2 separate regions of the Homo sapiens genome follow, and region 2 is linked to region 1. Evidence: fine-mapped expression QTL. A gene starts in region 1. The other region holds a variant in brackets. All regions are shown on one strand. Distances are between the middles of the regions. Region 1 holds the start of HEATR5B (HEAT repeat containing 5B). Region 2 overlaps HEATR5B (HEAT repeat containing 5B).

The links.
Region 2: its variant is fine-mapped to the expression of HEATR5B in whole blood (INTERVAL, PIP above 0.99).

What each region holds. Positions count from the first base shown.
Region 1 is chr2:37,082,595-37,085,516 of GRCh38, reverse strand. It overlaps HEATR5B (HEAT repeat containing 5B), which reads left to right and starts at 1,145. Exons shown (of 36, transcript NM_019024.3): 1 at 1,145-1,248; 2 at 2,081-2,228. The coding sequence starts at 2,103. It overlaps GPATCH11 (G-patch domain containing 11), which reads right to left and starts at 999. Exons shown (of 9, transcript NM_174931.4): 1 at 947-999. RefSeq lists enhancers at 908-1,067, 1,538-1,637.
Region 2 is chr2:37,062,782-37,065,703 of GRCh38, reverse strand. HEATR5B (HEAT repeat containing 5B) reads left to right here. Exons shown (of 36, transcript NM_019024.3): 10 at 714-964. Among named protein-coding and RNA genes, the nearest start is that of HEATR5B, 20 kb to the left of the region's middle. The variant C/T (reference allele first, on the strand shown) is at 1,527.

The sequences.
Region 1 (2,922 bases):
TTATTATAAGTTAAAAACGTGCACTATTATATACAGCATTTATGGTAATTCACCCGCTTCCTCTAAACCTCAGATTCTTCATTGGTAATAACAGCATTTTTACACATAATGGTTTAACACTTACCCAGTATATCACACATTTTTATCACATTTAACCACCACTAACAACTCTACAAGGTAGGAAGAGTTTTTCCTGTTGGAGAAATTAAGGTTCAGTATGGCTAAATGACTATTTCAAAACCACAAAGAATCCGGGTCATAGTGCCTTGCAAATAGGATTACATTGTTTTTAAGAGACCTACTTAACTTTAAAGTGCCAGGCACATCTGAATGGGGTTACAGGTTGCTTTTAAAGCTCTCTTTCTATTGGTAAAATATACTTTAGCATTATCCATTTCCATCAAAGATAAGCATAAACTTCACAAGGCGATACCCTGGCAGAGATGATGGAGGCTCGTACCAGAGTGATAGCAATGCAAGTGGTCGCATTTGGGGTACACTTGAAGGTAGAGCTTACAGGATTTGCTGATGTTGTAGGTAGTACGTAAAGAACGATGTCAAGATAACGCTAAGTTTTTGGCCTGAATACATGGAAGAACGGAGTTAACGTTTTTTGAGAGTGGGAAGACTGTAGGAGTAGGTTTGTTTTTGTTTTTTTAGGGGGCGTAGTCGGGAAACAGACATATTGAGAGTCCCATTACATATACAAGTGGAGAAATGGACCTACAGTATAAATGTGACAAGAAACGTCCCACTCTCAATACTACGCTCAGGAACCGCTGATCCCTTCCCTCACGCGTTCCTCCTGGCTGCAAGCGTCCCACAGACGCAACCACCCACGGATGGAAAAGTGGCTGACGGTGTGATACGGTAGTCATGGCCAGCGCACTCTGCCTTTTATCATTCTACCGGTTGTCCCCAGACCCTTACCTGACAGCTCTCTTACCTGACAGCTCTCTGCTCGCCCCGGTTCAGCGCCGTAGAGCGCGCGCTGCGCATGCGCCCACCGACCAGCGTCGGACTTCCGGACCTCGGCTCCCACCAGTTTCCTAGTGCAGACTCTATTGGAAATTCGCGGCGGGTGGGGATAGGAGGACGTGGTGACTGCGCTTGCGCAAGACCAGCCCTCCGCGCAAGCGCTCTTCCCTTGTTTCCTGCAGGTAGGAGTGCGGGAGGTGGGGCATCCGGGTCTCTTGGTGGCTGCTTCTACCCCCGGAGCTCAGCTGATCTTCCCTTCCAGACTACGAGGTGAGGTCGCCGAAGCATGCATGTTGACACGCACGGACTCCTGTCCGACGTACATTTTCAGACGGGTGGGGAAGACATTTGAGTTCGTAATGAACATTTTCCCTTTTCTGGCTCCGTGCTTAGTTCCGAGCTGCCGCCTCGTGCTATTGACAGCCTGCGGAACCCCACGGAGGCTTGCGGCGGCCTCTTGGTGTTTCCCCGGGTCCGCCGCTTGCGGTTCTTGGAGTAGCCAGGTGAAGCCAGACCCCGAGCGCGCGAGGCTTCTCGGGTGCATTCCGGACCGCCTGGTGTTGTCACTGACGCTTCGGCCGCCGGGCCTGGCCGCCCCACCCATCCGCGTAGGAAGAGTCTTGGAGACCTGCAGTTCGGGATGTCTGTGCTGGGTGTTTTGACCTCAGTCCCTCTGGCCAGGTGCAGCGCGGGAGGGTAAAGGTGCTATGTACCGAACCCTGGACGAGAAAAAGAGGAGGATGGTTGTCAAGCCCGGCTGGGGTGTTTGATCTTAGTGCTTCAGTTTTTTCATTTATAGAACGGGTAAATGACATATGTGTTGCTGGACATATTTCTTCTGGAATAATGCCTTTTTTGGCAATAATTTCTTTTAATTTTCTTTTCACTCCATGAGTCACTCTTCCTTACCAAGTAGTTTTCTTCTGTTTTTGTTTGTATTTTTGTCATTTAAAAGTATGTTCTCAGGTTTTGCCTCAAAGAAGTTGAGTTTTTCCCCAAATGAAATGAGTAGTCCTACTTTTCTTAGTGAGTATATTCCATTAAGCTTGACTTTTAACATTAAAAAATACTTACAAGTATTTTTTACTCTGTTAAATTTAAGGTGTGAATTTCAAACTTCCGTAATGGAGTTAGCCCACAGTTTATTGCTAAATGAAGAAGCTTTGGCTCAAATCACCGAAGCAAAAAGACCAGTTTTCATCTTTGAATGGTTGCGATTTCTTGATAAAGTCTTGGTTGCTGCCAACAAGGTATGGTATTGCTCTTTTTTCCCAGTTGCATTAACGTGAAGAGATTATGTGGTCATGATTCTTAAGAAAACACATGTTATGTTTTGGAAGGTTTATGGGTCACTTATGGAACTTGAGAGTATTACACGAATGGGAAATTTAGTGGCAAAACTCAAACCTCGTTTAAATCCAGCTCATTGCCTATCTTCTTTATGTTTGTACCTGGGCAGCTCATTGTAACTGGAGAAAAACATGGCTATATGACTGGTGTCACTTTAAATTTATCATCGTCACCCGTTGCAAGTGATCTCTCTATGCTGCCTAACAATCCCAGTGTCTTCACTTATCTCTTTGAGGAGTCAATAATAGGCTCTTTTTTTTTTTTAATCTGTTTTTTCTTCCTGCATAGCCTTGATTTGCCGAGACCAGCTCGTTTGGGGAGACCCTAACCTAGCGGCGCTAGAGGAATTAAAGACACACACAGAAATATAGAGGTGTAAAGTGGGAAATCAGGGGTCTCACAGGCTTCAGAGCTGAGACCCCGGAACAGAGATTTACTCAAGTGTCTATTAACAGCAAGCCAGCCATTAACATTGTTTCTACAGATATTCGATTAGCTAAAAGTATCCCTTATGGGAAACGAAGGGGTATGCTGAAACAAAGGGGTGGGTCTGGCTAGTTCTGTGCAGCAGGAACATGCCCTTAAGGCGCAGAT
Region 2 (2,922 bases), 20 kb after region 1:
AGTGTGATTGATATTTAATTCCTGATTAGTTGCTTATCATCATCATTAGCACTTCAGATCATCAGGTTTTACTTAAATTAATATTCATTGTGATAGGCTGGGCGTGGTGGCTCGTGCCTATAATCCTAGCACTTTGGGAGGCCCTGGTGGGCAGGTCACTTGAGATCGGGAGTTCAAGACCATCCTGGTCAACATGGTGAAAGTCTGTCTCTACTAAAAATACAGAAATTAGCCAGCTGTGGTGACACGTGCCTGTAATCTACTTGGGAGGCTGAGGCAGGAGAATTGCTTAAGCCCAGGAGGCATAGGTTGCAGTGAGCCGAAATCATGCCACTGCATTCCAGCCTGGGGGACAAAGTGAGTCTCAAAAAAAAAAAAAGTTTCCTTGTAAAGAATATTGAATTAAATGGTTAAATAAAGTTTTGGAACAGAAATCAAAAGCAATTGTGGTAGTTTTTTTATAAAAATTGACTAAAATTTGTTGAAGACTTCTATTAAATTTTACATCAATATTGAATATAATTGTACTATGTTCTTCATAGAAAATGTTCCTTTGAAGTACTCTACTGTATGTAGTTTTAGGCAAAGTTGTGGATCTATATGTGTGAAAGCTTGGTGATTGTCATTTCAGTTATTGTTTTTTAGATAGTATTTGAGTTTCTGAAATCATTTGACTTCATTAAAGAGTAATATTTTGAGTATTTCTTGTTTAGGGCTTTTGGAGATTGTGACTTCAGTGCTGCTTCATCCAAGCATGGCTGCCCGACTTGCTGCTGCATGGTGTTTGCGCTGTGTGGCTGTGGCATTACCTTTCCAGCTGACACCATTTCTAGACAGGTGTGCAGAACGGCTCAACAACTTGAAGACCTCACCAGAAGCTGTCAGTGGATATAGTTTTGCAATGGCTGCTTTGTTAGGTGGAGTACATCAGTGTCCTTTGGGCATTCCTCATGCCAAAGGAAAGGTATGACGGAGATCCTAGACTTGGGAATGCTGTCACGTGGGCTTTGGTCTTTATAGGAACGCTGCTGTGTTTAGTGTTGAACAGGGTGGTCAAATAACAGTTGTACTATGTTATCATAAAACATAGTGTTCTTACTATGGTGTTAACAGACCCTATTATAATTTGATATTTAATTCTGATGTAAGGATAATAGATTTTGTCCAAGTCTAGTAACATGTTATAATTTATTTTAGAGGGAAAGAGAAAAAAAACAGCCTAGGCAACATAGTGAGACCCCATCATTACAAAAAATAAAAAAAGTTAGCCAACTTCATGGTCCTAGCTACTGGGGAGGATGGGTTGGAAGGATCACTTGAGCCCAGGAGTTTGAGGTTACAGTGAGCTATGAACATGCCACTGTCCTTCAGCCTGGGTGACAGACCAAGACCTACCCTGTCTCAAAAAAAAAAAAAAAAAAAAACCCAACCTTAGATATAGTAATTATTTGAAAGTCAGAGCTTTTCTTTCAGCTTTTAGAAATAAAAGTTCACATTGCTATATATTCAAAGATGTCAGGATAATA[C/T]GCTATTGTAATATTTAGCATTTTGATAATGTTTAGTAAAAATTGAGTGGTTTTAATAAATCATGGCCGGGCATGATGGCTCATACCTGTAATCCCAGCACTTTGAGAGGCCGAGGCAGGTGGATCATTTGAGATCAGGAGTTTGACACCAGCCTGGTTAACATGGTGAAACCTTGTCTCTACTAAAAATACAGAAAAATTAGCCGGGCATTGTGGCCCATGCCTGTAATCCCAGCTACTTGGGAGGCTGAGGCAGGAGAATCACTTGAACCCAGGAGGCGGAGGTTGCAGTGAGCTGAGGTTGCACCACTGCATTCCAGCCTGGGTGACAGAGAAAGACTCCGTCTCAAAAAATAAAATAAAATAAAAAATATGAGTAGCTTTTTTTTCTCCTTTCTTTCTGTTGTATACTACTATCATGGTTTTCTTCTCAGTAATCTTAAGTGTTTATATAAATATTATTTGAAACTTTACATAGGCAGATTGGGGCTAGAGTTTTAAATTTTGATTTTTTTTCTGGGACATTAAGCCCATGTCCATTCATAGCAGTTGCATAGCTACCGATGAAATCCAGACTTCCCTCTCACTTTGTCATATCGTTGCTTCCTCATTCTCATCTTCCTCAGACTTTCCATCTTCCCCACACGTCCCATCTTCCTCATACCACTTTCATATTTTACATTTGCCCAGAGACCCTTAGGGACTACCCAGTACTCAGAGAGTAAAATATAATCTCCTTTGTCTGGTAAACTGGTATCTTATAATTTGACTTCATTCCGCCGTTCATTCAAATTTCCTGTTGCTCTAATTAGACTAGTTATCTTCCTTCCTTCCCTGGCCTTTTTCAGCTTCGAAGCCTTTGCTCTGCTAACCTCTTAGAGTTTCATCTCCCCTCTTATTCAGCTGCACCAAATTTAAGTCTATACTAGCCATTCTGTGTGGATGTTAATACAGCAAAGTACCGAGAACAGTGCTAGCCCATGTGACCACTAAATAAATGCTGTCATTATTAGCACTATTATTCCACATTCAAAGATTTGTTGAACTCCTATTATGCATCTACCATTGAGCTAACCTTGCCTGGGCGTGGTGGCTCAGACCTGTAATCCCAATGCCTAGGGAGGCCGAGGCTGGAGGATCACTTTAGGTCAGAAGTTTGAGACCAACCTGGGAAACATAGTGAGACCCTGTCATACAAAAAATAAAAAATGAAATTTTTAAAATTTTCCAAGTATGTTGGCATACACTTGTAGTCCTACCTACTCAGGAGGCTGAGGTAGGAGGATCCCTTGAGCCCAGGAATTCCAGGTTACACCGAGCTATGATTGTGCCACTGCACCCCAGCCTGGGTGACAGAGTGAAACCCTGTCTCTAAAAAACAAACAAATAAGTAAGC